2 separate regions of the Homo sapiens genome follow, and region 2 is linked to region 1. Evidence: fine-mapped expression QTL. A gene starts in region 1. The other region holds a variant in brackets. All regions are shown on one strand. Distances are from middle to middle.

Region 1 (15,934 bases):
TGAAATACAATAAAAAGAATGAAGTCTAAGCTTTGGCCTAAAATACCACACATTGACTCAGATTCTTTTTGCTTTCATATGCCATAAGTTTCTTTTTTTTTTTTTTTTTTGGATTAAATTGACCTTCTCTGTCAAACCCAAAGACTCAAGGCTGCAAATACATTACAATGCCTTTGTTCTCATAATCCTTTTACTATCTTATGTAGTTCTCAGGAAGCTAGACTTAAAAACAATCATAACACAGTATCACTTTACACAGAAGATTTTTTTCTTCATTCTAAGGGTTTTAAACTATTTCCTAATGAATCCAAATGGGATTCATTTGAGTTAGGGAGTAAAATAAAGGTTGCTTAACTGATTCTTGTTGAAGAGAGAAGAAAGTCATAGTTGGAGAATTGATTTATTTAGGCTGCTTATATTTAAGGGAAATATCTCCTACCCCCTGTAACCCAGATGGGCTGTTCATTAGCTAGACTGAATCACAGAGCAAAAGAAGAAAGAATCTGGATGGAATGAGCTGCTACTTCTGCAACAAAAGCAGCAAATGTACATGAAGGGTTTAATTCACTTCCTGTGGTCTAGGGCTGAGTGGAGATGGCAATGGGACATCTGGAACATAGATGAACATATTTTCCTGATGGAGGCTGGTAATGGTACAATTCCTTTCTGATAGAAGTCTCAAATATGCAGTCTTTTTGCACTTTTCATTCAGCTAAGAGAAGGCTATCCCGGGTGTGAACATCAGGATTCTAGGGAGAATAAATGATTAAATGAGATGAAAGGGCCAATAAGAATTTTAGCTGAAAGCTCAAAGCTGCACTGAACCTAATCTGTTGAGAATATACCATTGGAGAACTTGTCTTGGCTCTGACCCTCTAATTTTAGTTGCTTCTCGATCTCAAAACCTGTAATAGTGCTGGGAGAGAGGTCTGTTCCTCTATAATTTCACTTTAACCCCTACCAAGTGGTGTTATAGAGCCTGGAAAAAAAAAAAAAAAAACCAGCTAAACATCTCCCCACCATTTCTGTGACACTTCCATCTGGGAATCCAGATGGAAGAATTTCAGGAAGTCTGGAATGTGTAGACATTTCAGACTCAAATTCCCACTTCCCTTTGCTCAATTAAAAACTGAACATTGTTACTACTCACTTTGTTCATTCTTGCAAGTAGATGTTTTGGTCACCTGTCTAAAATAATGGCCCTGTCCTTCCTCACGATGGTAGGTGAGTGATAGCTGCTGGAAATTAGATAAATTTATCCTAAGGTATCCTTGGAAACAGAGAACCAATTTGGAACAGAGGGCTGAAAGTCAGAGATTATTAACTACATATCTTGTTTTTCTCCAATGGCTTCAACTTTCCCTTCTTTTGCCCCCTCTTCCAGATACCCAGCACTTCCTATCTACCATATCCTCCATTACCCTTTTCAAGGGCTAATTTAATTTCCAACTCCTCCGTGAAAATGTCCCCTGCTATTCTAACTTTGTTCTTACAAAGTTGCAGAATGGATTGATTACATGTTGAGCAAAACCTTCATTTCTTTCCCACAATGCTATTATGGCTGTGTACAATGACATCCAAGAGATATTTATTGAAAGAAGGAAGTACATCAGACCTAGATGTTGCCATTAAAGAGCTCATAATCCAGTAGAAAAGATAATTATAATGCAGGGCTTAAAGTACTAAGAGAAATAAAGAACGTTATTGTGTCATTTCAAACTGAGCAAAATCAGGGTAAGCTTTGTGGAGGGGGTAGTGTGTAAGCAGAGCCGTGAAGGATGAGAGTGGGTCTTGTGGTCCTAGACATGCAAGAAAGATCATTCCAGATCTGTCTCCAGATATGGGAAACAACCTGAGTCCCAATGCCAGAGGATGAAAAATATGGGTCATTTGTGAAAAGCATAAGTTTACTTTGGAGTGAGGGTAGATCAAGGGATATAGTAAAAATTGGAATGAATAGGTGGGTGTGGGGAAAAATGATGGAGACTAAAGAGTTTACACATTTGCATAGAGAAATAATGAAGGTTTCTGAGCAGTGCAGATCAATGCTTTAGTGCTGTACTTCAGGAAAACTGACCTGGCAATAGAATGTACAAGCTGAAATGGACATTGTAGAGCTGAATCGTTCAGTTAGAGGCAACTGTATAGTTTAGAACAGAAGTAATGAGATTGTAGCAGTGAGAATAGAGTTGGCATATTGTACAAGCAGAATTAGGACTTAGAAATGCACTAGAATTTGAATAAAATTGGGGGTGGAGGAGATACAGATGTCTCCAAAGTTTTGAATTTGAATGACTTGGAAAGCATTAATGACATAAGAAATAGGAAACAGGAGGAAGAATAGAGGGAAAATAAAGAGAACAATAAATTTACCTGACATATTGAGTTAGAAGTATGGGTAGTTTATCTTTGAGATGTCCAACATGCGGTTGGTTTATTATAATCTGGAACTCAGTATAGATAGTTTCTGCTACGGTTTGTGTCCCTCAAAATTCCTGTATTACGTTTACCTATGTAACAAACCTGCACATCTGGCACATGTATATCAGAACTTAAAGTTAAAATTTAAAAAGTTAATGTGTTAAAAACTTAACCCCCAAAGCAACAGTTTTGGGAGGTGGGACCAAGTATGGATTAACTGGGTCATGAGGAGGGAGCCCTCATGAATGGACTATTGCAATCATCTTAGGAGTGGGTCAATTATCACTAGAGTGGGTGGTTATAAAAGCAAGCCCAGCCCTTGGTAGTTCTCAGATATATGCACTTGCTTCTGCCCTCCACCTTTCCACTATGGACCAGATACCAGCACCATGCTCTTGGACTTGCCAGCCTCCAGAACTATGAGCCAAATAAACTTCTTTTATTTACAAGTTACTGAGCCTGTGGTATTCTGTCATAGAAGCAGAAAATGAACTAAGACAGAATCATTAATATAACTTAAAAACTTCAAACTGTTAAGGTAGAGAGTACAGTGAGAGAAAGGAGAGAGCTATGGACAGTTCAACTTTGAATATGTGTGTTGAGGAGGCAGGTAATGAAAGAAGGTCCAGAAAAGAAGAAAGAAAGGAAAAAATGTTCAGAAATCAAAGAAGAAAACCAGAAGAATACAATATCATAGAAACCAATGTTGGAAAATTCTAATAAAAAAGACTTAGCCAACAGTGTTCAATGCTGATGAGTTCCAGGAGAATGACAGAAAAGGGGACATTGAAATTAATGGCAAATTATTGATTTTTAAGAAAGCAGTTATTGAAGAAGAAACCAAGCATTCTAATAGGTTAATGAGTATGTTAGGGAGTGATACAGAGAAAAGAGCCCTTACTGGAAACCAGAGGGCCTGAGTTCCAGCATGGCCCTGCTGTTAAGTAGCCCTATGATCTTTTTAGCATGGTTTTGAACTTATTTTGTGGGGAGGGGAAGTCTTTACTTTAACATAATTTTAATTGACATGTAATAATTGTACATATCTATAGGACACAGAGTGATATTTCAATGCATGCATACAATGTATAATGATCAAATCAGGGTAATTAGCATATCAATCACCTCAAACATTTATCATTTCTTTGTGTTGGGTACATTCAAAATCCTCTCTTCTAGCTATTTGAGAATATATAATAAACTATTGTTAGCTATACTCACCCTACAGTGCTGTAGAACACCAGAACCTAGTCTTCCTATCTAGCTGCCATATGACATTTTAACCTTTCTCAAACTGTTTCCTAGTCTTCAAAATTCTATAAAATATCTTCAAACTCTCACTTTCAAAGATTCATACAAGCTACCTGTGTGCCTGAATCATACAGAGATATTGAGCCACATGTCTTTATCAGAAATAGGCCAATTTCACCACTTGTAAGTTATGTGAAAGTGGGGCACTTTCTTGGTGTTTCCTAATATAGAGAAATTGAGACTACATTCATAGAAGATTTTCTCAAAGCAAACTAAGTTGATGATGTTCCTTCCTTCAGCCTCCTCCCACTCCCAGTCTATTATCCCTTACTTTTAAAAACTGAGGTAAGACATTATCCCTGGTATATCCGGTGACTCGTTCTATTGCTTGAAATCAGAGGATGCCACCAAAAGCCTTTTTTGGTTTGTTGAAATCAGTTGAGTAATATGAACAACCAATTCCCCTAAATCACGGCTCTCTAGCTAAATGTGATAATATACTTGTACAGGGACACCACTTCCTGAAACTCAGTGTCTCATCTCACATGCTCCCAAAATTTAGCCAGAAATATGTTATTCAAGAAGAACACAGATGCACTGAAGCAAGAACATTTTGCTTTATCTGAGGGGCTTATATCTATTTGGGTCCCGTAGCAACACAAATTCAGAATCACTGAGATGTTAAATATTACAAATTTTTTAGTTGGGTCCAGGCACATAGTCTGGTGATATATCCCAAGTGTAGGTGTGAAACAGTTCACTTTGACTGAATCCTCTGATTAAAGCTCAATAATACCATGCTTTATCTTTTTTTTAAAAAAAAAAAAACCCACAAAGTAGTATATCTTTATCTTGCTGAGACACCAGTATATTTTCCTGAAGTTTTCATCCCTTGTCTTTCCTCTTGGGAGGCTGGCCTGTTCTTTCTTAAGTATTCTTGCCTTATTTAACTCTAAAGAATATTGCAGAAAGGGAAGAATTTTTTTCAACTTTGTTTTTAAAGGGACTTACATAATACAGGTCTAAATTCAGTGGAGAAAAGGGGAAGAAAAGGACAATTATCATCTATTGTGCACTGGCTATATGCCAAACATGTTCACTTACATTATCTCACTCAAGCCTAACAATATTTTGTAGTAAATTTAGCTTTGATTTTAGAGATGAGAAAACTGAGGCTGGGAGAGGTTAAATCATTCTCTCAAGGTAAAGTGGCAAGTCATAAAACTGGGACTGAAACTAAAGCTGTCTGACTCCAAAGCTCAAGCTCTTTCCACACTACCATGCAGTTCAATCTAGTGGGGAAAAAAATCCACTCTTGAAAGCGTCTTAGCATTTTAAGCATAAATGTGTGTTAGTAGGGATCCTCTGGAGCTTCCAAATTCTATTTTATCTGCACTGAACTTTACACACACACACACACACACACACACACACACGTCTATTTCCCCCTTCCAATTGAAATTCAGCACCGAGGACAGTTCCCGAATCATGTTTGCAGGAAGCTGTCCTTGGATTCTGTTAGAGCTCACACTCTCATTCTTGACTTCCCAAGTGGCACTGAGAAAGAGAGAAGGAAATGTAAGAAAGTATGAGATGGGATCCTCTCACACCATGGTGGAAATTAGCACATTTCCCAGAAGACCAAGATAAAAATGCATGTGAGAAGAACAAGAGAACCAAACAGATGGGGCAATAAAATGGAGGCGGAATGAGCTCATCAGGATTCCCAGCACACGGTTTAAGTCCATACTGGGCTCACAGCTGACCTGGGACCAGCCGACATAGTGAATGAGTGGGTGGTTACTATGCTGCAGCATCAGTTACACTAAGAGATTAGGTGGAGCTGATTCACTGCTGCAGATCTGCACGACTTTTCAAGTGGAGGAAAATCTGTGGGCCCTGGTCTCTGCCACTCACATAACCATCCTCATGGGTAGCATGAGTCATACATGCAGGATCTTTCAGGTAGACAAAGTTGTTGTGCTGTGAGTAAACCCAGTATGAGCTTTCGTGTTGTCGAAAGCAGGTTTTAACCACAACTACGGCGTCTCCGTGTATGAAGGTTTACCTGCTGTACTACAAAACGACCCTGCCTTTCCACATTCACCTTTGGCTACAGGTGGTTAATAACACACACAGAAAAAACAAGTTTCTGAAACGTTCCTCACACCAACAGTGATTCCTTCTTTTTCAAACTATCATGCTCTTGAGTACAGCCAAAGCACCTTTAGACAGTTGCGTCTAATCCCCTTATCTTTTTAAAATTATTATTATTATTTTGAGATGGAGTCACGCTCTGTCACCAGGCTGGAGTGCAGTGGCATGATCTTGGCTCACTGCAACCTCTGCCTCCTGGGTTCAAGCGATTCTCCTGCCTCAGCCTCCCAAGTAGCTGGGACTACAGGCGGGCGCCACCACACCCAGCTAAATTTTGTATTTTTAGTAGAGACGGGGTTTCACCATGTTGGCCAGGATGGTCTCGATCTCTTGACCTTGTGATCTGCCTGCCTCGGGCTCCCAAAGTGCTGGGATTACAGGTGTGAACCACCGTGCCCAACCCCCGCCCCTCCCTTATCTTATATGCAAGAAAACTGAAGTCCAGAGGAGAAATGACTTGCCCCAAACCACTTAGCTAGTGACAGAGTTAGAATTAGCACTAGATCCCTCATTCCTAAGCCAGCAGGCTTTTCATTGCACCAGGAAGATAAAATAAAACTGTAAATAGCATGTACTCTGTTAACTAAGCCTCTAATTATACTGCCTCCAAAGAAAATAACATTTCAAATGTCTGGGTCTTTCCATTTGAGCTTTGGCAATTTCACTGATCACTTCTCATACTGGAATCTCTTTTAAGACGTTTAGGAGTAATTATATTGGGATATATGCTATTTTTACTCTTGTACACTGCTTTCTTTGTTCAGGAGGAAATTAGAATTCTGGAAAGATACTTGATTTTGTTTAATTATTAAAGGAACAAGCTTCTACTTCAAGTAGTTGCAAATATGAATGTATCAGTCTGTGTGTCAAGAAAGGATATATGGAACAATACAGGAACGATAATACTCTATTGTCACATCCAATTAAGGGCCACCTAGGTCTACAAGTAAAGAGGAACATCAAAGCTATGAGTGAAAATGGAAAAGTCACATCGTTATCTGAATAATTTTGAAAACGTCTGGATTTGGTGCCTTATGAATCATCTGAAATGTAACAAGGCATAAAGTGCTTTGCAACCCTGTTGCCTTCATTATTGTAATTTGTGCATATGTAGGTTTATTTGAACTTTTTCGAGTTTTCATCCAGCTGAAAAAGGATGTAGGAAGAATGAGTCCAGTCAAGGTCATACTTAACAAGGTGAAACTGACACCTCCTGGGGATGCAGGCTAACAGAAACATGAGCCCATTACTCACCCCAAATCTCCCATCCATACCTTTTTCTGCTAATGAATATTCTTACCTGAACCATCATTACTTCCATTGTCCTCTGCTTTGGATACCTTGCAGACCAGGTTCCTGTCTCTCATTTTTATCCACGAAGAGATTTTCAAGAATAGAACTTTTCTTATAATTTAGCAATAATGTCCTTGAAAACCCCACAACTATTTACATAATAGAAGCTATTGTTTGAAGTGCAAAGCAGGTCAGAATTTGGTTTCTAGAGATTAATCACTGCAGTCTAGTTTATATTATCATAATAATTTCATTTATTTTGGTACAATTTGCTTTCAGAATCAACCTCGGCTTCTGCGCACAAGTGACAAATCCATTTGTTTGTGGTATAATGGATAACGTGATTAATGACCTTGCAACAGGATTTCTTAAAAACATAGAGAGGAAAAGAAATAAAGATTTCCATTTATAAATGTGCAGTAAACCAGCTCAGTCTGTAGCTGTGCACCAAAATCCCTCTGAACTTGTTTTAAGCCACAGATTTGGAGAGATTCTGAAACAAATTTGCTCCTGACTTTTGGGGGTTTCTGCTCATATCTGCTGTCTCCAAGAAGCTGAGGGCAGTGGCCTCACTTCGAGGAAGTGGTGACACTGCGGGCCCTCCTGGTTACAAGGACCGGGCACTGTTGGACCACGTGGCTCCATCATGATGACTCCAGTTAGATGTCACCCCGCCCCTGAGCTCAGGTCTTGCTGAATAAGGTCACCGCCCAGGGGGCAGTCGATGAACACGCGCGCGAGGGCTCTGCGAGTGGCCTCGTGACTTTGTCCCTAACTCCGGGTGTCCCCTCCTTCCCATCAGCGTCCGGCGCCTGGTCCTGGTCCCGGTCCCCGAGGCCCCCGGGATTCTTCCCGAGCGTTTTCCGAGTTGGCGCGGGGGGTGGAGGCGGGGCCATGGAGCGCGTCCCGGGGACCGTTGCATCCGGAGGCGGCCGTCGTGCGGCTCCTTCCCGCCTCGAGAGTGAGGTGGCCGGGCCTTGACGAGAAGGCCCACGCCTGCCGCGGGGGTGGCTCGCGATGGCAGTCGGGGTTCGAGTCCCGCCTGGGGGGCTGCTCCTGCTGGAGAAAACGCCTCCCTGAGGGCGGCGGCAAACGCGCAGCGAGGCCCCGTGCCGCGCCAGAAGCCACCCTGAGAAAGGGGCACCGGGACACCGAGGGGTTCCCACTTTCTCCTCAGCCTGTGACGCCCGCGTCCTCGGGTGGGTTCGAGGGGCGCCTGGGCACGGCCAGCCGAGGCTCTCGAGAGCCCCAGTGTCGTTTTCCACCTCAGGCCTCCTTTCCTGAGGCAGAGCCCGGGACCTCGCGCTCTCGCCTCAGGCTCCGGCCCACGCTCCCGCCCGGCCGCCAGGCGCGCAACGGAAAGCGCCCCCGCCCCGCCCCGCTCCGCCCACTGCGTGACGCGCACCCGGCCGAGCCAATCAGAGCTCGTGGCGCGCGCCCCACACGCCGGCCCCCTCCGCCCCTCAGCTTAAGAAAGGGCGCGCGGACCCGGCAGGCCAGAGTGCCGAGCAGCGCGGTGGGTGCGGCTGTGAGACGGCAGGAGACTTCTGCCCCGCGGTGCACGCGACCCTCGAGACGACAGCGCGGCTACTGCCAGCAGCGAAGGCGCCTCCCGCGGAGCGCCCCGACGGCGCCCGCTCGCCCATGCCGAGCTGAGCGCGGCAGCGGCGGCGGGATGCTGGCGCTGCTGGCCGCCAGCGTGGCGCTCGCCGTGGCCGCTGGGGCCCAGGACAGCCCGGCGCCCGGTAGCCGCTTCGTGTGCACGGCACTGCCCCCAGAGGCGGTGCACGCCGGCTGCCCGCTGCCCGCGATGCCCATGCAGGGCGGCGCGCAGAGTCCCGAGGAGGAGCTGAGGGCCGCGGTGCTGCAGCTGCGCGAGACCGTCGTGCAGCAGAAGGAGACGCTGGGCGCGCAGCGCGAGGCCATCCGCGAGCTCACGGGCAAGCTAGCGCGCTGCGAGGGGCTGGCGGGCGGCAAGGCGCGCGGCGCGGGGGCCACGGGCAAGGACACTATGGGCGACCTGCCGCGGGACCCCGGCCACGTCGTGGAGCAGCTCAGCCGCTCGCTGCAGACCCTCAAGGACCGCCTGGAGAGCCTCGAGGTAGCGGCCCGCGGGGAGCGCGGGGGACCTGGAATGGGGACGCTCCCGAGTCGGGGGCGGAAGACTCGGGAGGATGGGGAAAGGGGGCCTGGCCCTGGGGAGGGTGTGATCGTCCGTGGGGGTGAGCTGGACTTGAGGGTGAAAGGCGGGGATCTAGATCCTGCTCGGGAACTCCCCTGCGTGGTATCCCTTCCCACACCGCTGCTCTTGCTGGAAGGAAACGTTTAAATTCCACCCCCGCGCGTCGGGACTGCCAGCGGGATCCGCCGAGCACTTCCCGAGGTCCGGGCTAGCGAACCCAGACGGCCAAGCCGCGGGCGCCAAATACCCGGGGACGCGGTAGCCTCTATCCTCTTGCAAATCTCCAAATCTCCGCGAGCCGGGATGCGCTCCCGCAGGCCGTGCGGGTTGCTGCGAGGCTGCCGCGGGAGGTCAGCTGCCCCGGGCATGTGGTGTTTCTTTCTTTAAATCAGGTCAGGCTGAGCTAGAGGGGGCGGAAGTCTGGGGGCGGAGGTCGCAGGGAGGCGAGCGCAGGGGGTCACCGGCGACCCCAGAGCGCGCATTAGAGGGGCAACCTCTGGTTAACTTCAAAGACTCCCGTGTCTGCAAGTTGGACCATTTTAAGGTGCTCTTCCGGATTGCTTCAGGGGAAGGGACCTCATTCCCTTCTCTCTCTCTCTCTCCCCCCCTCCCCCCCTCCCCCTCCGTCCCCCCCCCCCGCCCCCCGCTCCCGCCTCCGTCTCATCTCTATCTCTGAAAATGCGTGCAGTTTGGAACTTTGAGAGAAAAATCTTCAATTATTTTTCATCTTTAGGCTCCACCCTTTTTAAGAAGTGTGGACACTGCTGTTAATAGCCTTTGTGAAAATACTTCTCAGCAAAACTAGGTTTAAATTACAGGTGGTAATTATTGCAAAAATGACTCTAGGGTTTCTTTTGGCGTGAGGGCTGAATACAGTATTTCCAGCATCTGTATATCCCCTGATTCATTGTGATTGCTAACAGCTAACATTTCTGGAGCACTAAATATGAGTCAGGCACATCATTTAATTTTTTAATCCTTGGAACAATGAATGGCATGAGGCAGGTCCCATTATGTGCATTTCACAATTTGGAACACTTTGTGGAGAAAGGTAAATAGCTTGCCATGAACTCATGGGTAGGCAGCCTGCCACAGCCTCCAGAACCACATGATGGTAGGGGAGAAAGAGAAATAGGAAGTGAGGATTTAGAAACAGCATTAAAAACAAAGATTGCTGGAGTTCAGAATAGCAACGTTTTAGATCTGTCATTTTCCAGAAACATCTCTGCATGCATAGTTATTTACCTTGGTGCCAGACCGGAACTTGGGGGCTGTTTTCATTTCTAGGTGAAAGCTCCTTGGCTTTGTGTAACCATCGATTTACTCTTAAAAAAGAAAAAAAATCCTGGAGCTGAGTTTTGGTCTCTACCCAACATAGAATTCTAGGCGTTGGTTAGAATATTGACTTTTTAGTAAGAGGAGAAAAACGGCTTTTTGAGAAGGGAAAATTAGATTCACAAGTTTCAAATATTGCAGCAAAGTAATTCTTATCTGACTTTGAAATCTTTTCCATACCAAAAAAGCATCAGTGAGATGCTCCCCTGCCTGCCAGTGGCAAGATTCAGGGCTTGCGTTTTGGAAGCTTCTCCCTGTGTGGTCGGGCCATCACAGCCACATTTCACAATTTCTTTTTAACTCTTTCTGTGCCCCTCCCTCCTCCCCGGTGGCTGAAAGCACCAGCTCAGAGCAAACGTGTCCAATGCTGGGCTGCCCGGCGACTTCCGCGAGGTGCTCCAGCAGCGGCTGGGGGAGCTGGAGAGGCAGCTTCTGCGCAAGGTGGCAGAGCTGGAGGACGAGAAGTCCCTGCTGCACAATGAGACCTCGGCTCACCGGCAGAAGACCGAGAGCACCCTGAACGCGCTGCTGCAGAGGGTCACCGAGCTGGAGCGAGGTGTGTGCCTGGCCTGTTTCTCTGTCTGGCAGTGGCCTGATTTTCACCACTTGTGGTCAGACATGCGATTCTGGTTGATGGACAGCAGGGATTGTGACACCACATGGGCCTGGTTCCCGAGTGTGTGAGCAAATAATAAAGGCGACTGAACAAGGTCATCTCAGGAATGAGCTGCCAGCCCCACTGGCATTATCCAGGGAAAAGTGAAAGTGTCCAGGACCAGCTTCGATAAGCAACCACACGGGCGTTTCAGTCCTTTGTTAACTAGTCCTGGCAGCGGATTCTGTGTATCTTTCTCTTCTCTGCTCACACTGTGGTGAGTAAGTTTCTCCCACAGGAGACAGAGTGGGAGGGATCAGGGGATAATTCAGATTGCGTCATCAACCCCCAAACCACTGGGTGGCTTGGGTTTGAAGTTGTAGGTTTGCCCGTAGTGGGTGTTTATAAGACTGGAATTTTCCCAGATGCACTAAGCTGATGAAGCCACTTCCCCATGACTCCGTTTCATGCATTGATAGGAGGATGCCCAATAGCAGAACATCCAATGACTTTGGCCGAGGTGGGGCAGATGGAGAAGGGGCTGGTGTTACTGTTCCATTTTACAGCCAGCATCCACAAGCCACAGGTCTCTTTCATCCCTTTCCTAGTCTCTTCCTACAGAAAAACCTATCCTTTCTTCCTGGCCCTTCTCAGAAAAAGGTGAGTATGGCTTACCTGTTAGATCTGTTAGATTCTTGAGTTTCCAAAAAATCTTCCTTTCTGTCTCCCCTCTGTTGCTGGGTGGCCTCAGGAGCCATCCCTGAAGGTAAAGCAGCCGTTGCTGTGGCCCTCCTCCCATGACAGGAGGAGGGAACGTCTAGGCACAGGTGAGCGTGGCTCCGTGGACCCAGCCTGAGCCACAGTGGATCCTCGGGACACCCAGGGCTATGGAGTTGGCACACTAAAGGTAGTTTGCCTCTCGAAAGGGGAACTGTGGAACGAGAGGAGGGCTCCATGAGAGACCTTGGTGGCTGTAAACCTCCCTCTGCACAGTGGCCAAGTTGCCATGAGGAGGTGGGTAAATAGCAGAATAGTGAGCCAGAGCTTCAGTCATGCCAGGCGGGAGCTCAGACTCCTGGTATGCCCGTTTCATAGATGAGAAAAAGACTCCGTTCTCAGTGGGACATGTATCTTTTGGGGAGGGGGCCCAAAGTGGGTCCTGGGCCACTAGCTGGCAAACAGTGACAGTCACATCAACCTGCACCTCCTCCTTCTCTTTCTCTCACTCAAGGCCAATGTCATTTCACTGGGCTTACTCCTAAGGTAAGCCATCATCATGGCTTTGGCCACCCAGAAGCTGCCACTTTGTGACTGTCCCTTTCATCCCCAGCCTGTCCATTACCAGCCAGAAAGAAACAGTCAGGACTCAGACCCCGCCAGCCTGACTCCTGACCCTTTAGTTTCCCAGCAAGCCCTCAAAGCTCATCTGGCACAGAGGGGAAGCTCACCTCTACGAGGGCAAAGACGCTGCTGGCCATTTATGCACCCCAGAGAGGCAGCCCAGCCTCTCTTCATCCCACCGTGGGAACTCTAGAATCCTTCTGTGAGCTCCACCAACTCAGCTCTGGGATGTGCTTTAAGGAAAGTGATCATTTGCAGACCAGTTTGTCTTCTGGGCAATTCTGAGTGTCCTGTTTGTGACAATTGTAGAGAGATGAGTAAACGCCCAGCCCTCCACATGTACTATGATTGGAAACGATGCCAAGTTTCTTAGACACATCCAGCTGAACCCAGAGTAGCTAGACCTTAACCTCACTACAGGCAGGGGGCCTTGGTGGGGGAACTCTGGCCTTTGGTCTGTCAGCCTCCACCCCTTAGGGACCAGATGCTTGGCTGTGAGTTCCACACTTGGCATTCTGTAATCCCTGACATGACCTTGCAAGGTAGGGATTAGTTCAGACGAGGGACTCAAGTCAGAGAACTAAAGTGATGCCTGCATTCACATTGCCAGCAGATTGCAGAGCTGGGAGTGAAGTTGGTGGGGCCCCAGAGGAGTGATGGAGGCTGCAGCCTGGAGCGGTGTGTGGGCCCCAGCCCTGCTGCGTCGGAGGCTCCTTGGAGCCCCCAGCAAGCGCCTGACCCCTGGCATATGGATGCCCCTGCCACCCGGGGCCCAGGGTTGCTTGCTTTTCTTTGCTGCAAGACCTGTTCCTCTGCAAGGGCCTCCAGAGTCCAGGCCAGCTGTCCAGGCACTGCCCAGCTCAGTGTTGAAATAAATGTTGCTGCTGAGAAAACCAAAGCTGCCTCTCTTCCAGCCCCAGGCTGCCCACCCCCTGCTGAGCCTCTCCGCCACCTGCAGTGTCTGATTTATTGGTCAGGCCTTTTAATTCCTTAATTGGTTTTAACCAAGTTTCCTCCAAACCGCCAAGCTGTTTTATTTAAATAAAAGACACTGGCTCTCAGGGTACAGGCCCCCTCCTCTGCCCCTCGGCTCTTCCAGCTCTAATTAAACCTATCTGTTGTCACCAAGCTAACAATATTACCCACACGGAGTCGTATCAGATTGGCAAGGCTGCCCTCCCGCAAGTATAGCAGCCATTTCTCTTTATTAGACAATGATGCCTTCATTAAGGACATGGTCATTTGCCACTTGAAGATTAAGTGTGAGTGGCTAAGTGTCGTGGAAAGAGGGACTTCCGGCCCCTGGCCTGTCATTCACTAGCTGTGTGACCTTGGATACGTCACCTCACTTCGCTGAGCCTCCGAGCCTCAACTGTGCAACCTGCAAAAATGGGGGAGTAGGGACACTCTGGTTCTCTCTCTCAGTTTTGCTTTTCAGCCTAATGAGAGACTAGTCCCAGCCTTCACTCTGGCCTGGCCCCTTGACTTCTTCGGGGAGCAGGTCTTCCCAGCCCTCGCCAGGTGCCCAGCAGCTCTGCAGTGGCATCGAGAGGTGCCCATCCTTAGGAGGTCAGGAGCAATCGGGAGGCCACCATTGGCAGATATGAGTACATGCAACACGTGAAGCCCAGATTCTAGAATGTACACACTGCCTGTTCCAGAGAGGTTAGAAAGGGGATAGGGGGTTCTTCTGTGCCCCTTTGCAGAAACCCTCCTTAGATAGATGTGAACTGCGGCCCCCAAGAGCCTTTCGTGTGTATTATTCACTCTGAGGGACAATGAGTTTGGGGGATTGTGGTGGAGAAAGGTTTATCTATTCTGGCTCATGTTGTGCAGTAGGGACTGATTTAACTCCACAGTGACACAGGCAGTTCTGGCTCCAGAGAGCCCGCCTGTCTCTGATGGCCTCGGAGACTGTCTGAGCCCTTGTGGATGCTTAACCGACACTTGTTGAATGAGTGAAGGGCGTTTAGATTCCTTCAACGGCAGGGTCTGGTTCTCAAATAAGAGGGCCGCCTTTGCCATGACAGCTGGCACAATCAAATGGTGTCCTGCAAACTTTGGAATCCACGATGCCTGGACAAGGGCTGCCGCTGTGGTTTACTTAATTTTGAACTTCAACCAAGGCTGCCTTGGAAATATTGTAAACCCATTCTAGAGTTTGTTTTCAAGGATTTTAGAAGTGCCAATGACATAGGGGTGGCGGGTGGATTCTCACCAATTCCAGGAAGGTCTGGAAGGGCCAAGGCTGTGACCAGGTGTGTTCCCCTAAATGAGGAGAGACACCTGCGGTTGCCCTGCCTCCCACTGGCTCCAGACTACAGGAAATGATCAATAAACTCAGTCTTCTCTTGAGGAGGAAAAGAGCAAAGTGCTTTTTGTCAGGGATTTAGACCAAAAAGCCACTTTTGAGTTAAGTTATGGAGTCAAGACCCGGGAGCCTGACTGCTTCACCTCGGCAGTGGTAATTCTTTCATGTGAGGAGTGACACAGACTCATTCACTTGACAAGTGTTTATTGGGTGCCTGGGTCCCTGTAAGACTTCCTTCTTCTAAGCCCAAGTCTCCAGGGTTCCTAGATCCTGCGAAGATTTCAAGGAAATATCTGAAGTTATAAGATGTGGCTAAGGACGCAGTTTCTGGCTTAACACAAGAAAATTAAATCTACCTTTCTTCTGCTCCTTCCTCAAGCTTTCTAGTCACCTAATATGACTTATGAAAAGAGAGTATTAACTAGAAGGAACCAGACAGAGCCTCTGTCACCCAGGTGGGAGTGCAGTGATGCAATCATAGCTCACTGCAGCCTGGACCTCCTAGGCTCAAGCGATCCACCTCAGCCTCCTGAGTAGGTGGAACCACAGGTGTGTGCCACCCTACCCAGCTAATTTTTATATTTTTTGTAGAGATGAAGTCTTGCTGTATTGCCCAGGCTGTTCTTGAACTCCTGGGCTCAAGCAGTCTTCCCACCTCAGCCTCCCAAAGCACTGGGATTACAGGCATGAGCCACTGCACTTGGCTAATTTTTTAAATTTTTTGTAGAGACAGGGTCTTGCTATGTTGCACAGGCTGGTCTCGAACTCTTGGCCTCAAGCAATCCTCCTGCCTCGGCCTCCCAAAATGCTGGTATTATAGGTGTGAGCCACTGCACCCATCCAAGAGCTTTTTTTCTTCTAGATTTCAAGAGGCCTCTTTTCCTGTCCTAAAAGATGGAGCTAAATTCTCTAACGTGCCCCATGCAGTGCCCACAAAATCTTCCTTTTCTTTCCTTTTCTGGGCGTCCTTGGGGCCCTGTACTTGCTGTCACCTGTGTCTGGGGTTCTCTTCTGCAGGTCTTTCCAGGCCTTCCCTGCATCCTCTGCC
Region 2 (15,934 bases), 200 kb after region 1:
GCTCACTGCAAGCTCCACCTCTCGGGTTCACACCATTCTCCTGCCTCAGCCTCCCAGGTAGCTGGGACTACAGGCGCCCGCCACCAAGCCCGGCTAATTTTTGTATTTTTAGTAGAGACAGGGTTTCACTGTGTTAGCCAGGATGGTCTTGATCTCCTGACCTTGTGATCCTCCCACCTCGGCCTCCCAAAGTGCTGGGATTACAGGCGTGAGCCACCACACCCAGCCCACATTTATTCTTAAGAGGTAGAACATATAGTATAAAGATTTCAGCTAGGCACGGTGGCTCATGCCTGTAATCCCAACACTTTGGAAAGCCAGGGTAGGAGGATCGCTTAACTCCAGGAGTTCAAGACCAATCCTGGGCAACATAGTGAGACCCCACCTCTCCAAAAAAATTTTAAAATTAGCCAGGTGTGGTGGTGTACGCCTGCAGTCCCAGCTACTCAGTAAACTAAGGCAGAGGATCGCTTGAGCCCAAGAATTCAAGGCTGCAGTGAGCTATGAGTGGGCCACCGCACTCCAGCCTGAGCAACAGAGCGAGATCTCATCTCTAAAAATTATGTATGTATGTGTGTGTGTATATATATAGCCTATATATGTATATATGTTTGTATGTATGTATATGCATACCTGTATAGGCTATATATATATATAGTATACATATACACAGGGCCTCCCAAATGCCCTGTCTTTCATTGCCTATATATATGTATAGGCAGTGATATAGACATTGTATATATCATGTACATATATCAATGTATATATCATTGTATGTATCATGTATATATCAATTATATATCATATATAGGCTTAATGAATCTTAGTCAGTATGACACGTTTGTCTGTATATATATATAAAATATATAAAATATATATATTGAATGATTGATATTCATTAAGCCAAAAAAATGGAGAAAGGAGGAAATTGCATCCAGTTTTAGCTACACTGGTGAAATACAAATATGTAATTTATGAACCTTCTCCCTGCAACCTTGTCTCTACCAATCACTTGCTTGGCAGACTGTCTCTTCATAGAGGGTTCCAAGGTCAAATCTAAATGATCCATTTTCAATGAGTGGAGAGAATATCCAATGTTGCCCTTCTGAGCAGCCTTTGCCAAGTCACCTCCTGCTCAACCCAGATCCCCCTGTAGGTTTCATCTCTCTGCTCTGTGCTGCCCAGGTCCCCTCCTGGCTGTACTCCTCATCCTGGGTCCTGAGTTCCCAGGCCCAGAGTATCTGAGTTCGTGTCACCTCTTCCTCCCACCCTTGGCTGTGAACTCCACGTCTAACTCATCCTCAAAACCAGAGTCCCCAGCATGCGTTCCTGGAGGATGGATGAATACTGCAGCTTGCCTGAGCCAGCAGCAGTTATGAGAATGACAATCAGATGAACTTGAGAAATGAATGTGACAGGCTGAGACATCGCTACTGAGAGCTTTGATTCATTGTGACGTTCATTCATCCTGACCATCTTACATCACAGTTGAAGAAGCTTTGAAACCCTCTGCCTTTGGGAGAAGCGAAGCCCTGTGGACATTTGCACTCGGAAAAGTTGTTTGTAGTGACCTTCATTTTAGGAAAAATTTCCACCACTATTCTTTATCCTAATTTACACAAAATGTGTATGGGTCTTCAAAAGACAGTAAACAGCCACAATGCCACCCAACACCACAGATTTCTATGCTATGACTCAAAGGATGTATAAATTCCTGAAGGCAGCAACAGGGCTCCTATCATCAAAACAAACTTATTCCAGTCTGGGTGCGGTGGCTCACGCCTGTAATCCCAGCACTTTGGGAGGCCGAGGTGGGCAGATCACTTGAGGTCAGGAGTTCAAAACCAGCCTGGCCTATCTGATGAAACCCTGTCTATACTAAAAATACAAAAATTAGCCGGGCATGGTGGCGCATGCCTCTAATTCTAGCTACTCGGGAGGCTGAGGCAGGAGAATTGCTTGAACCCAGGAGGCAGAGGCTGCAGTAAGCCGATATCGTGCCACTGCACTCCAGCCTGGGTGACACAGAGAGACTCCATTTCAAAAAAAAGAAAAAATTATTCCAAGACGTGATGTGCAGCAATGTTGGGGAAGGGATGCAGAGGGCGGAAAACTTGAGTTCCCAACTCTGATTGTGCGACTTACTGGATCTATGGCTTGGAGCAACCCCTCAGCATACACACAGACACCCATCCTTCTTCAGAGCTGCCTGGGATCTGATGAATCTCCACGTGCAATAAACTTCGTGTGCTACTTGGGGGACACAGTGCAGACAGCAGCCACTGAAGGGGACTCCATGATGGTGCAAGAGGCTCCACTGTCCAGGACATTTGCAAACATAGTGCATGACCCAGGCCTGCCTTCTGTGGAAGAAGGAGGCATGGAGGAGGATGAAGAGAGCATGGAGGGGCTGGATTGTAATATGGAAAGCCCAGCTGGGATCAACGTTGCACTGGGAGCTTTTTGAAAACAGATGGCGTCTTCCATATTGGTGCTGGAGATCCTCTTGGACCTGCCTCGGAGCTGTCACCTGATGGTGGTGATGGTTGTGGCTCTGAAGTCCACAATGGAACCCTCACCCTCTTGCCTCGCTGTGTCCATCAGTCCTGTGTCTTTTCCCCAAGTGTCTGTCTTGGAATGTGTGGCCCAGCCAGGAACATGGGGGACAAGTTTGTCCCCAGACAAGTTTGAGTCCAACTCAGGACAAATTTGTCAAGTGGAATCAGCTCTCACAGATGCAGATTTGCCCCTCCTTTGCACTAGGCAGGCCCACTCTTGTCTCATTCCTGGTTTGGTTACCACTAGTAGATGCTGTGGGTGCAAAGCTAGGTCTCTGTTCTACCCAGGTCGGAGGCAGACTGGGACAACCTACACCTCCCTTGGCCCATCTGGTCCAAAAAGATATGGATGGCCAGGCACGGTGGCTCATGCCTGTAATCCCAACACTTTGGGAGGCCAAGGCTGAGGGATTGCTTGAGGTCAAGAGTTTGAACAGCCTGGGCAACATAGAAAGACTCAGTTCTCTACGAAAAATAAATTAAAAAAAAAATTAGCCAGGCATGGTAACACATGCCTGTGGTTCCAGCTACTTGGGAAGCTGAGGCAGGAGGATCACTTGAGCCCAGGAGTTCAAGGCTGCAGTGACCTGTGGTTAGACCACTGCACTCCAGCCTGGGCGACAAAGGAAGACCCAGTCTTTAACAAAAGATACAGATAGATAGATAGATAGATAGATAGATAGATAGATAATAGAGACAGATATTAGATAGATAGATAGATAGGTAGAAAACAGGCAGGCAGGCAGAAAGACAGATGATAGATAGATAGATACATAGATAGATAAGGCAGGCAGACAGATGATAGATGATAGATAGATAAATAGATAAGATGGGCAGGCAGAAAGATAGATGATAGACAGAGACAGATGATAGATGATAGATAGATAATAGAGACAGAGATAGATGATAGATAGATAGAGACAGACAGAGATAGATAGATAGATGATAGAGACAGACAGAGATAGATGATAGATAGATAGACAGACAGACAGACAGACAGATAGATAGATAGGAGATGGAAGATCAGAGGATTGGGAGAGGTTAACAGAACAGGTCTCAGCCATGAGGACCTTTGCTCCAAGGTGGGATTGAAGGAATGAAAGGCCGGGGTGGGGATGTTCTATCCTGATCTCATAAAACAAGGCAATGTGAACAATCCCCAGCTGCCACTGGACCTATTAAAGACCTAATTTCCATTCACCTATAACTTTATTAGGCTCATCTAAGCTATTCATCAGAGAAGCCTGTCTTGAAAACGGTGCACAGTGGCCCTTATTAAAATGTCTTCTCAGCAGGCAAATGCGTTAGGTTTTATGGCCCCATGCACAGATGTGCCTACACAATGGCAAAGAGCCTCCTCATCACCGCTCAGGCCCAATAGAGGTTGCAGGTGAGACACTGGGATGCCTGATGTCAAAGATGCCCATTCTCATTCATAAGCCCCAGAGTCTAGAGTTGATCCTTGCCATATCCCCATGAGTTTGGGTAAAATTTTCCATCCCAGAGTGCTACTGGCTGACTCTCTTGCAGTGCCAGCCCCCCCAATTCCCGGCTGCCCTGCCCTTCAGCCTCGTGCTGAAGCCAATGTGTATTTTTGGAAACCAGTCCCTGGGTACAGCCTGGAGAGTCTGGATAAGGGGTGGCCAGGCTGCCGGAATATTATGACAGGCGGCTCTGGGAGCACAGGGCTTGGCAGTTGGTGAAAAGTATAAATGAGAAGAGAACAAGAGGCCAGACACAGTGAGAGTTGCTAAGCAGCCAAGAGTCCCAGAGAAGAGAGTCTGTGCCTCTCACCAGGCACAGAGAGAGGTAGGAAACATCCCTGACTTACCCATGAGTTTGCATGTCTTCTCTGCCATGGATAGAAGGCCCTCGTGGAGACCAGTGGAAACAGAGATCAAAGTGAATCTCCCGGGATTGGAGCTGGCTACACAGCTTTGCTGAGGAGCAAGTTACTTAGCCTCTCTGAGCCTCAGTCTCCTCATTTGTACAATGAAGTCCCCACCCTCCATGATGCTGGGTTATTGACAGGGTGAACAAAGCATTCCTCAAGGGGCCTGGTACATGGTGGGAACAGAACTCACATTGGCTTTAGTATTAGAATTAACATAGTCTCCCACGATGGCCAAATGTTAGGGCTTGTAGAGTTGCCAATGGTTCCACACCACACTCAACTGGAGTAAAAAGAATGAGACATCAACTCTTCCAAGCTCATTCCTACCGAGCTCCTATTCACCAAACAAACCAGGAGTTCTGTTCCATCCCAACTGTCTTGGGTTTCACATTTGTCTGCCTGTCCCAGGAAGAATTTTCAAATAATGAACTGTTGTTGACAATAATTGCAATGTTGCAAAAAAGAATATAATAAAACCCCACACATCTGGAAATAATAGTAGTAACCTGTCTCCTGGGTCATTGTAAGGATTAAATGAATCAAATCTCATTTAAAGACCTAGAGCCGAATGGAGTCAGTGAGTGTGTGTGTGTGTGTGTCTGTGTGTGTGTCTCTGTGTATGTCTGTGTGTGTCTGTCTGTCTGTGGGTATGTGGGTGTGTTTGTGTGTGTGTGTCTGTGTGTGTCTGTGTGTGTTGTCTGTGTGTCCATGTCTATGTGTGTATGTCTGTGTGTGTGTCTGTGTGTGTCTGCGTGTCTGTGTGTATGTCTGTGTGTGTATGTCTGTGTGTGTCTGTATGTGTGTGTGTGTGTGTGTCTCTCTGTGTGTGTATGTCTGTGTCTGTGTCTGTGTGTGTCTGTGTGTCTGTGTATGTGTGTGTGTCTGTGTGTCTGTGTCTGTGTGTGTATGTCTGTGTGTGTATGTCTCTGTGTGTGTGTGTTTGTGTGTGTCTGTGTGTGTGTGCACACATGCATGCATATTCAGGGAGGGTTTTCTTTGGGCTTCTGGCTGCCATCATGAAACAAGATGGTGGTGTTATATTTCCCATGGGAAGATCTCTAGTTATTCATAGGGAGTTTCCTGCACTGGCAGTGGTGGAGCCTGCTCACCTCCTGAGCCTAATGCAGTACAGGAAAGCCCCCAAATTGGGGCTTAGTCTGGGATAGTTCATGGCTTCCTTCAGGAAAGAATTCGAGGGCAAGTCGCTGGTGTTAGACAGCAACTTTTTTTTTTTTTTTTTTGAGGTGGAGTCTCACTCTGTTGCCCAGGCTGGAGTGCAGTAGTGTGATCTCAGCTCACTGCAACCTTCACCTCCCAGGTTCAAGCAATTCTTCTGCCTCAGCCTCCCAAGTGGCTGGGACTACAGGCGTGCACCACCACGCCTGGCTAATTTTTGTATTTTTAGTAGAGACAGGGTTTCACCATGGCCAGGCTGGTCTCGAACTCCTGACCTCAGGTGATCCGCCAGCCTCAGCCTCCCAAAGTACTGGGATTACAGACATGAGCCACTGCACCTGGCCTAGACAACAACTTTTATTAAAGTGGCAGTGCACAGCCAGCAGCAGAGGTATTGCTCCTTGCAAAGCAGGGCTACCCTTAGGCGGTGAACCCAGAGCAGCAGCCTGGAGGCAATTCCGCAGTCATATTTATACCACCCACGTTTAATTATAGGCAAATTAAGGAGCAGTTTATGCAGAAATTTCTAGGAAAAGGGTGCTAACTTGTGGATCATTGGGTCATTGCCACGGAAAGGAGCGGTAACTTCTTTTTTTTTTTTTTTTTGAGATGGAGTCTTGCTCTGTCGCCCAGGCTGGAGTGCAGTGGCGCGAACTCGGCTCACTGCAAGCTCTGCCTCCTGGATTCACGCCATTGTCCTGCCTCAGCCTCCTGAGTAGCTGGGACTACAAGTGCCCGCCACCACGCCCAGCTAATCTTTTTGTATTTTTTTATTAGAGACAGGGTTTCACCGTGTTAGCCAAGATGGTCTCGATCTCCTGACCTCGTGATCCGCCCGCCTCGGCCTCCCAAAGTGCTGGGATTACAGGCGTGAGCCACCGCGCCCGGCCAGGAGCGGTAACTTCTGAGCGTTGCCACAGCAATGGTAAACTGACATAGCACACTGGTGGGCGTGTCTTATGGAAAGCTGCTTCCACCGAAGTCCTTTTTTAGCTAGTCCTCAATTTGGTGTGGTGTTTGAGCCCCGCCTCCGGAGTGGAGTCCCACTGTTAGGAATAACGCTCAAAATCTTAAGGAAATTGAACACTCGAACAAAGGATCCTTAGCAAAGCAATTTTGCTTTTGTGCAGAGGGGTGCCTCCTTGGCCAGTCGCCACGAGAGCGCACCTGAACAAAGGGGCACGAGAGCCTTTATTCCTGAGGCAAGTCCTGCCCCTGCACCCTTTTGCCATTGGCCGGGGTTGGGTCGTACAATCTAAACTAATCCCGGTTGACTAGACATTTGATTTTTTTTTTTTTTCTGGATAAGGTGGGCACGTAAAAGAAAGTGGACAGGAAGGGGAAGAGGTGTCTGTAATGATCTGGAAAGTTAGTCTTTTTTGGCCGGGCGCGGCGGCTCACTCTGTAATTCCAGCACTTTGGGAGGCCGAGGCGAGCGGATCACGAGGTCAGGAGATCGACACCATCCTGGCTAACACAGTGAAACCCCGTCTCTACTAAAAATAGAAAAAAATTAGCCGGGTGGGTGTGGT[T/G]GCAGGCGCCTGTAGTCCCAGCTACTCAGGAGGCTGAAGCAGGAGAATGGCGTGAACCCGGGAGGCGGAGCTTGCAGTGAGCCGAGATCGCGCCACTGCACTCCAGCCTGGGCGACAGCGAGACTCCATCTCAAAAAAAAAAAAAAAAAAAAGAAAAGAAAGTTAGTCTTCTTTCCAAATAAGGAAAGGAATGTGAGCTGGTACTGATAACGCCTGGTACTGTGGCCTGCCTGGACATCTAACAAAGGCAAAAAGGAAAAAAAGGAGAAAAAGGTGGGGGGGGGGGCGGGTACTATGGATAAAGGATAAAAGATTGATCAGATTATTTGACGAGAAACCTCATTATATCCCACACCACCTTGTACCTCAAGCCCAGATCCCTACTCTGGCGTCTGATTTCAGGATGGGCATCTCTAGCATGACAGGACTTCCCACATTCTGGACCCCCTGCTGCCTATAAGGTCCCCTTGCCACAGTGAACAAGCAGTGAAGTCAAGGAGTCGGACAGGAGCAGGTCAGGGACCTTAAGTGAGACTGGGAGACCTGGAGGATTTGGGGCAGGGGTGTGGCCTAATCAACCTAGGTCTTAATAGGCTGCTGTGCTGAAACTAGACGGTGAGCACAAGGGCAGAAACAACAGCAATCATTCAGGCAAGAGATGGTGATGACTCAGACCAGGTGAGAGCAGTAGAGGTGGAAAAAAATGAGTAGATTCTGGATAAATTGTGAAGGTTGGCTGGGCGTGGTGGCTCACGCCTGGAATCCCAGCACTTTGGGAGGCCAAGGCTGCCGGATCACCTGAGGTCAGGAGTTTGAGACCAGCCTGGCCAACATGATGAAACCCCATCTCTACTAAAAATACAAAAATTAGCCAGCCGTGGTGGTGGGCCTGTAATCCCAGCTACTCAGGAAGCTGAGGCAGGAGAATCACTTGAACCTGGGAGCCGGATGTTGCAGTGAGCTGAGATCGCGTCACTGCACTCCAGCATGGGTGACAGAGTGAGACTCCAGCTCAAAAAAGAAAAAACAAAAAAAAAGAAGATCTTTGAATCCTCCTATGGCCTGTGGGCTCCTGCTTTGAGATGTCTCACCTTTTTAGGTGAAACCAAGGTATAACTTCCATGTATTGATTGACAGCTTTGACTGTAACCTCCCTCTCCTTGCTTGGAGCCCCGCAATGAATGCCTTCACTTCTCCCACTGCAAACTGTGGTGTGGATGTTTAGCGTTACTGTGCTGGGTGAGAGGATCTCAATTTGGTTTGGTAACAAGACAAGCTCAGAGAAGGATGGTAGTGGGCAGTGGGTGGTGGTGATCACTGGATCTTCCACTTCCTCTTCCTATTTCCTGAAACGTCTCCCCATAGGCACCTGTGGACCCACTGGTCTTCCAGCTTTGTTCCCTCGCACCTCCTCATTCCAGCCTTCCCATCTCTGTTGATGGCAACTCCACTTTTCTGGTGTCTCAGGCCAAACCTCAGGGAGACCCTGGACCTCTCGACCTCTCGACCTCTCTCATGTTTTCTCAAACCTCACCTTCAATCTATTCACAAATCCTATTGGCAACCTTCACTTTTTTTTTTTTTTTTTTTTTGAGACAGAGTCTTGCTCTGTTGCCCAGGCTGAAGTGCAGTAGCGCAGTCTCGGCTCACTACAACCTCCACCTCCCGGGCTCAAGCAATTCTTGGGATTAAAAGGCATGTGCCACCACACCCGGCTAATTTTTGTATTTTTAGTAGAGACGGGGTTTTGCCATGTTGGCCAGGCTGGTCTTGAACTCCTGACCTCAGGTGATCTGCCCGCCTCAGCCTCCCACAGTGCTGGGATTACAGGCATGAGCTAACATGCCAGGCCAGGCATGGACTTTGAGGGTGGGTCGTGGAGGACCTGTCCTCCTGGCTACGGGCCCACTAGAAAGCCCTCCCTGAAGATGCGATAAAGCAGAGGCCCTATTAGGGGCCTGGTGGGCACCCTCCCCCTCCAAGCATGGAAATAAAGGAAAATCTTGAGTTCCTTCAAGGGAAAGTTCAGGCACCTAGCTAGTCCTGAGCAGTAAATGAGCAACTTGATAACCAAAAAGGTAATAGTAGCTTAAAGCAATAGCCAAGGAAATCACAAGATGTTTAGTTCCTGATGGGAACCAAAGATGTCCTTGAGTTTTTCAGAAACCTGGGCTCCTGCCAAATGGACCTGCTGCTGGCAGGTAGACCTCAGATAAGGGGGAACTGAGCACTGAACTCTGACAGTTCTTTGTTCTAAATTTCTTCCTGAGGGGCCTGGAGAAGGTCATACCCACAGACCAGAGCTAACATTCTTTTCTACTCTCCCCAATTTTCTTTTTTGTTGTTGTTGTTGAGATGGAGTCTCGCTCTGTCACCCAGGCTGGGGTGCAGTGGCGTGATCTCGGCTCACTGCAACCTCCACCTCTTGGGTTTGAGTGATTCTCCTGCCTCAGCCTCCTGAGTAGTTGGGATTATGGGTGCGTGCCACTACGCCCGGCTAATTTTTGTATTTTTAGTAGAGATGGGGTTTCGCTGCGTTGGCTAGGCTGGTCTTGAATTCCTGACCTCAAGTGATCTGCCCACCTCGGCCTCCCAAAGTGCTGGGATTATAGGCATGAGCCACCATGTCAGGCCCTGTCCACAATTTTTTAGACAAAGCCTTGCCTCCTTAACCAATCACAAATAGAAAATCTTTGAATCCTGCTGGGCAAGCTGGCTCACGCCTGTAATCCCAGCACTTTGGGAGGCTGAGGCAGGCAGAGCACCTGAGGTCAGGAGTTCGAGACCAGCCTGGCCAATGTGGCAAAACCCTGTCTCTACTAAAAACACAAAAATTAGCCGGGCGTGGTGGCACGTGCCTGTAATCCCAGCTACTCAGGAGGCTGAGGCAGGAGAATCACTTGAACCCGAGAGGCAGAGGTTGCAGTGAGCTGAGATCATGCCACTGCACTCCAGCCTGGGTGACAGAGCGAGACTCCGTCTAGAAAAAAAAAAAAAAATCCATGCCTGCCAGCACATTTCTCAAAGTAGAAAAAGGAAAAACCACCTTCGGGGAGGAGCTCAGAGCTGACTTCTCACTGCCAGCAGATGACACAGCCCTGGACTTGTCTCCTAAAAGGCACAATGACACCTGGCCCCACTGCCTTCTCCTTGACGGGGCCCTGACTGTGGCATGGCACCTCTCAGCCCTCAGCCTGCTCAGTCATTCTGCACAAAGTTTACTTCTCCCAGTAAAGCCAGAATTCCTCTCACTTCAGAAATAAAATGTATACATCTGCTGGTGGCCTCACATCCCTTCTCTGCGTTCTCAGCATGAGGCTCAGGCTTTTTATAATTCATCAAAAAGGCCACACGTAATGAGCTCAGTTCTTACTCTGCAACTGGGACGTCAGCTCACCTTTTAAGAACCCCGCACCCAGCCAAGGCCCCTTAGATCTTGTCCTAAAGCTGGGGATGAGTCACCTGTGAATCAGGCAGCAGGCTGAGCCAGCACTGCTCTCCAGGGGCCGCCTTCCCTTCCAAAGGACTAGCCTGTGTAAGGGGCCAGGCTGGGGGCTTCCCTACCTTCCTTCATTCGTTCATTGAACAAGAGTTTATTGGCCGGGTGTGGTGTCTCATGCCTGTAATCCCAGCACTTTGGGAGGCCGAGGCGGGCAGATCACCTGAGGTCAGGAGTTCAAGACCAGCCTGGCCAACATCACAAAAATATGTCTCTACTAAAAATACAAAAATAAGCCAGGTGTGGTGGTGGGCGGCTGTAATCCCAGCTAGTCAAGAGGCTGAGGCACAAGAATCGCTTGAACCCGGGAGGCAGAGATTGCAGTGAACCGAGATTGCACCACTGCACTCCTGCCTGTGCGACGGAATGAGGCTCCGTTAAAAAAAAAAAGAGTGCATTGAGTGCCTGCTGTATGGCAGGCCCTGGACTGGAACCTTTCCTAGATGCTCTTTTGCATAATCCCCCTCCTGACAATACTAGAAGGAAGGTGCTCACATGCCCATTTTGCAGATGTGGACACTGAGGTGCTGAGAGGTTTTAGTATCTTGTTTGAGGTCCCTTGACTTGTGTGTAGTAAAGAATTAACCTTATCCTAGGCCAGGTGCAGTGGCTTACGCCTGGAATCCCAGCATTTTGGGAGGCCAAGGTGGGAGGATTACTTGAGGCCAGGAGTTTGAGACCAGCCTAGGCAACATAGCAAGATATCATCACTACAAAAAAAATTTAAAAATCAGTCAGACATGGTGGTGGACCTGTAGTCCCAGCTACCCAGGAGGCTGAGGCAGGAGGATTGCTTGAGCCCAGGAGTTGGAGGCTGCAGTGAGCTCTGATCACACCACTGTACTCCAGCCTGGGTGACAGAGTGAGACTCCATCTCAAAAAATAAACAATTAATTTAAAAATAAAAATAAAAGATGGCCAGGCACGGTGGCTCACGCCTGTAATCCCAGCACTTTGGGAGGCCGAGGCAGGTGGATCACTTGAGGCCAGGAGTTCGAGACCAACCTGGTCAACAGGGTGAAACCCTGTCTGTACTAAAAATACAAAGATTAGCCGGGCGTGGTCACGGGTGCCTGTAATCCCAGCTACTCAGGAGACTGAGGTGGGAGGATTGCTTAAGCCTGGGAGGTGGAGGCTGCAGTGAGCCAAGATTGCACCACTGCACTCCAACCTGGGTGACAGAGCGAGACTCTGTGTCAAAAATTAATTAATTAATTAAAATAAAAAATAAAAATAAAAAAAGAATTAACTTTATCCAAAGAGTGGTATGGCTTTTACCACCAGCTCCCGGGAGGTGAGCTCTAAGCCCTTAGAACATCCTGTCTGGTAAGAATGTCTTCGTTTACCTGGGGGCCTGGGGCTATGCAATCTAACAACGTACATGACTTATGGTGGAGGCTTTGGGCTACACAGCATCAGCTTGACCTCCAGAGGGGATGGGGATTGTCAGCCACATCAGGCATCAGCCATGTCTATATGACCAAGCCCCAGTAAAAACTGGACACCAAGGCTCAGGTGAGCTGCCCTGGTTAGCAATACTCCATGCACGTCGTCACGCATCATTGTTGGGAATGCTAGCCATGACTCCAAAGGACGGGACAACTGGAAACTCCATGTGCTGAATCCTCCTGGACTCTGCCCCCTGCATCCTTTCCCTGCGCTGATTTTTTTTTTTTTTTTTTTTGAGACAGAGTCTCACTCTGTCGCCCAGGCTGGAGAGCAATGGCGTGATCTCGGCTCACTGCAAGCTCCACCTCCCGGGTTCATGCCTTTCTCCTGCCTCAGCCTCCCGAGTAGCTGGGACTACAGGTGCCCGCCACCATGCCCGGCTAATTTTGTTTTTTTGTATTTTTAGTAGAGACGGGGTTTCACCATGTTAGCCTGGATGGTCTCGATCTCCTGACCTGGTGATCCACCCGCCTCGGCCTCCCAGAATGCTGGGATCACAGGCGTGAGCCACCGTGCCTGGCCTATTTTTAAATTTATTTTATTTTATTTTATTTTTTGAGATGGAGACTCGCTTTGATGTCCAGGCTGGAGTGCAATCTTGGTGTAATCTCGGCTCACTGCAACCTCCGCCTCCCAGGTTCCAGAGATTCTCCTGCCTCAGCCTCCCGAGTAGCTGGGACTACAAGCATGTGCCACCACCATGCCTGGCTGTCTCTTCTAGCTTCTAGTGACTGCTGGCAAATCCTTGTGTTCTTTGGCTTGTTGACCCATTGCTCCAATCCCTGTCTGTCTTGTCATATGGCTTTGTTCTCTGTGCATGTCAGTGTTCTAAGCTCTTCTTCTAAGGACACCTGTCATTGGTCTTAGAGTCTTCCCTAAATCCAAGATAATTTCACCTTGAGATTCTTAACTAATTATACCTGCACAGACCGTTGTATAGTTTGGATGTTTGTCACCTCCAAATCTCATGTTGAAACATGATTCCCCATGTTGAAGGTGGGGCCTGGTGGGAGGTGTTTGGGTCGTGGGAGTGGGTTCCTCATGAATGGCTTGGTGCCCACCCTATGGTCATGAGTGAATTCTTGCTCTATTAATTACTGTGAGATCTGATTGGTAAAAAGAGCCTGGCACCTCCTCCTCACTCTCTTGTTCCCTCTCTCGCCATGTGACCTGGCTGCTCCCACTTTGCCTTCTGCCATGATTGGAGGCTTCCTGAGGTTCTTACAAGAAGCAGACACCAGTGCTGTGCTTGCACAACCCACAGAGCCGTGAGCCAAATAAACCTCTTTTCTTCATAAATGACCCAACCTCAAGTATTCCCATATAGCAAAACAAAATGGACTAATACAGGCCAGGCGTGGTGGCTCATGCCTGTAATCCCAGCACTTTGGGAGGCCGAGGTGGGTGGATCACGAGGTCAGGAGTTCAAGACCAGCCTGGCCAAGATGGTGAACTCCTGTCTCTACTAAAAATACAAAAAACTAGCCGGGTGTGGTGGGGGTGCCTGTAGTCCCAGCTACTTGGGAGGCTGAGGCAGGGAATCCCTTGAACCCAGGAGGCAGGGCTTGCAGTGAGCCGAGTTGGCGCCATCGCACTCCAGCCTGGGTGACAGAGCAAGATTCCATCTCAAAAAAAAAAAAAAAAAAAAAAAAAAAAGTAGGGGGAAGAATGGATTAATACAACCCTGTTTCCAAATAGTTACATTCTGAGATCTGGGTGGACATAAACTTTTGAGAAGGACATTATTTAATTCACTATATAGGTGATTCCCCAAATAAAATCTCTCTTGACTTCTGATTCCAAAGGACCTGAACTAACACAACCCAGTGGGCCAGGTTCCATCCTAGGCACTGGAGCTACAAAGGTGGAGCACCCAGTCATGGCCCCTGCCCCCACAGGACAGAAGACATGGGAGTCAGGCAGGTGCTAAGGGCCAGATCTGGGAGGGAGGGAAGGAGAGAGGGAGGGAGGGAGGTGTGCTCCCCTCCACACAGCTTCCCTGCCTCCCCGCGAGGGGCTCTGGTCCCACCGCTCTTTGGAGCCAGGCCCTGGCTTCAGGGTGTACGTGCTCAGGAGGCTGCCGTGTTGATGAAAATACCACGGAGACGTCTGCAGGGTTCTTCCTCTTGCTGCTTCTCCTGTGCCCGAAATAAATGAAAAAGAGATGTTCCTGGCAGGGTCTGCGGAGAAGCTTCGTGGCAGGAATGAAAATTGGCCGCAGCATCCAAGAAATCCTCGAACGGCAAAGGGATTTCTAGGACAACACACCTCTAGGAACAGAGGATGTCGGTGGTGAGAGCTGGAGGCGGAGGCAGGCCTGCCGCCCCAGGTGTCTGCGTGTCTGCGGTCGCACCGTGGTGTGCACACCTACACAGGTGTGCGTACCTGCTGGCCGTGTGCAAGCACGGGGGCGAGTTTGGGGAACCCAGCTGAAATCACAGCACAGACTTTCTCCCACCATTGGCCCATCTGCCAGCCTCTTCCTCACCCTCAAGCCTGCCGGCCATCTGGGGTCACCTTGTCCTGCCACATTTCAACAACACTGGGCTTGGTGCCCGTCGGCTCTCCGGGGATTCTCAGCAGGCTGACACGGCTCCAGGCCCATCTGGCACTCAGTTCTGGCTCTCGCTGAATTCTCCATCTGCCCTGCTACAGGGAGTGCCCTGTGCCAGCCGTCCTTCTCGGCCAGACGTCACATCCACAGAGCTTCAGGGACTCAACGCTGCCTGTAGGCGGCTTTTTCCGGGCTCCAGCACAGCCCTGGACACCTTTAAACTGAAACAAGGCCACCTGGCCCTGGACGTCCCTCAGCCAATCCTGCCTCTGAGAGCTGTCCCTGACCCCTTCTCCTACCCCCTCAGGACCTGGTCTTAACACTCCACTTTTCATCAGAATGGCCCATCAGGGGGTTGCTAACCCCCTCCCCCACTCCCCACCCCCATCTCTAACGTAATCTTCCCCATCAGCAAGGACTATGCCCCCTTCCAGCCCTGCTCCAGGTGGCCCTCAACTTCCTCCCCTAAGACACTGGATCCCTCCATCCTCCCAGAAACAACCCAGAGGGCCTGGCATAATGGCTCATGCCTATAATCCCAGTGCTTTGGGAGGCCAAGGCAGAAGGATCATTTGAGGCCAAGAGTTCAAGACCAGCCTGGGCAACATAGTGAGACCCTCCCCCACCCATCTCTACAAAAAAGAAAAATAAATGTACCCAGACATCGTTGCATGCACCTGTAGTCCTAGCTACTTGGGAGGCTAAGGCAGGAGGATCCCTTGAGGCTGGGAGGTCAAGGCTGCAGTGAGGTACTGTCTCTAAAAAAATAAAAACGCACAACCTGGAGAGACCTGCTGGCATTTGCCTGTGTGCAAGCCCTGATCTTGAGCCGCAGTGGTGGAAATCCAGGAATCGATGAGCTGGGCATGCTGATCTGAAACTTCTGGTTTTACGGAGGGGAAACTGAGGTCAGAAAGACAATCAGCTTGCCTAAGCCATGTGGTGATCCTGGGGAACAGGAGCTCAGGTCTCCTGAGGTCTTCATTCCAGCCCATGAGTACAGTCCCTCTCAGGCACAAAGCACAGGGGCCCTTAACACCCCAGAATGCTCCGCAGACAGCTCTCTGTTACAGCTGGCGTTACAGACAGGGCCTGTTACCTCCCCTGCCTCCCTCTCCTCCTCTCCAGGTGTACCAGACCTTCGTGAGCAGACCTTAGCACCTTTTTTCTTTTAGAGACAGGGTCTTACTCTGTAGCCCAGGCTGCAGTGCACTGGTGCGATCATAGCTCACTACAGCCTGGAACTCCTGGACTCAAGTGATCCTCCCGCCT

Direction of the effects. Positions count from the first base shown, and alleles are read on the strand shown. Sizes are in standard deviations (SD) of each study's normalised expression.
For the expression in aorta of the gene that starts at base 8,621 in region 1, T is the high allele of the variant in region 2 and G is the other (large effect, 1.1 SD a copy in GTEx).

The links. PIP is the estimated chance that this variant, and not a neighbour inherited with it, causes the effect.
Region 2: its variant is fine-mapped to the expression of NPTX2 in aorta (GTEx, PIP above 0.99).

Annotation. Positions count from the first base shown.
Region 1 is chr7:98,608,665-98,624,598 of GRCh38, forward strand. NPTX2 (neuronal pentraxin 2) reads left to right here and starts at 8,621. Exons shown (of 5, transcript NM_002523.3): 1 at 8,621-9,223; 2 at 10,979-11,195. The coding sequence starts at 8,798. RefSeq lists an enhancer at 9,449-10,075.
Region 2 is chr7:98,812,214-98,828,147 of GRCh38, forward strand. No RefSeq gene overlaps it. Among named protein-coding and RNA genes, the nearest start is that of TMEM130, 50 kb to the right of the region's middle. RefSeq lists an enhancer at 13,929-14,504. The variant T/G (reference allele first, on the strand shown) is at 7,161.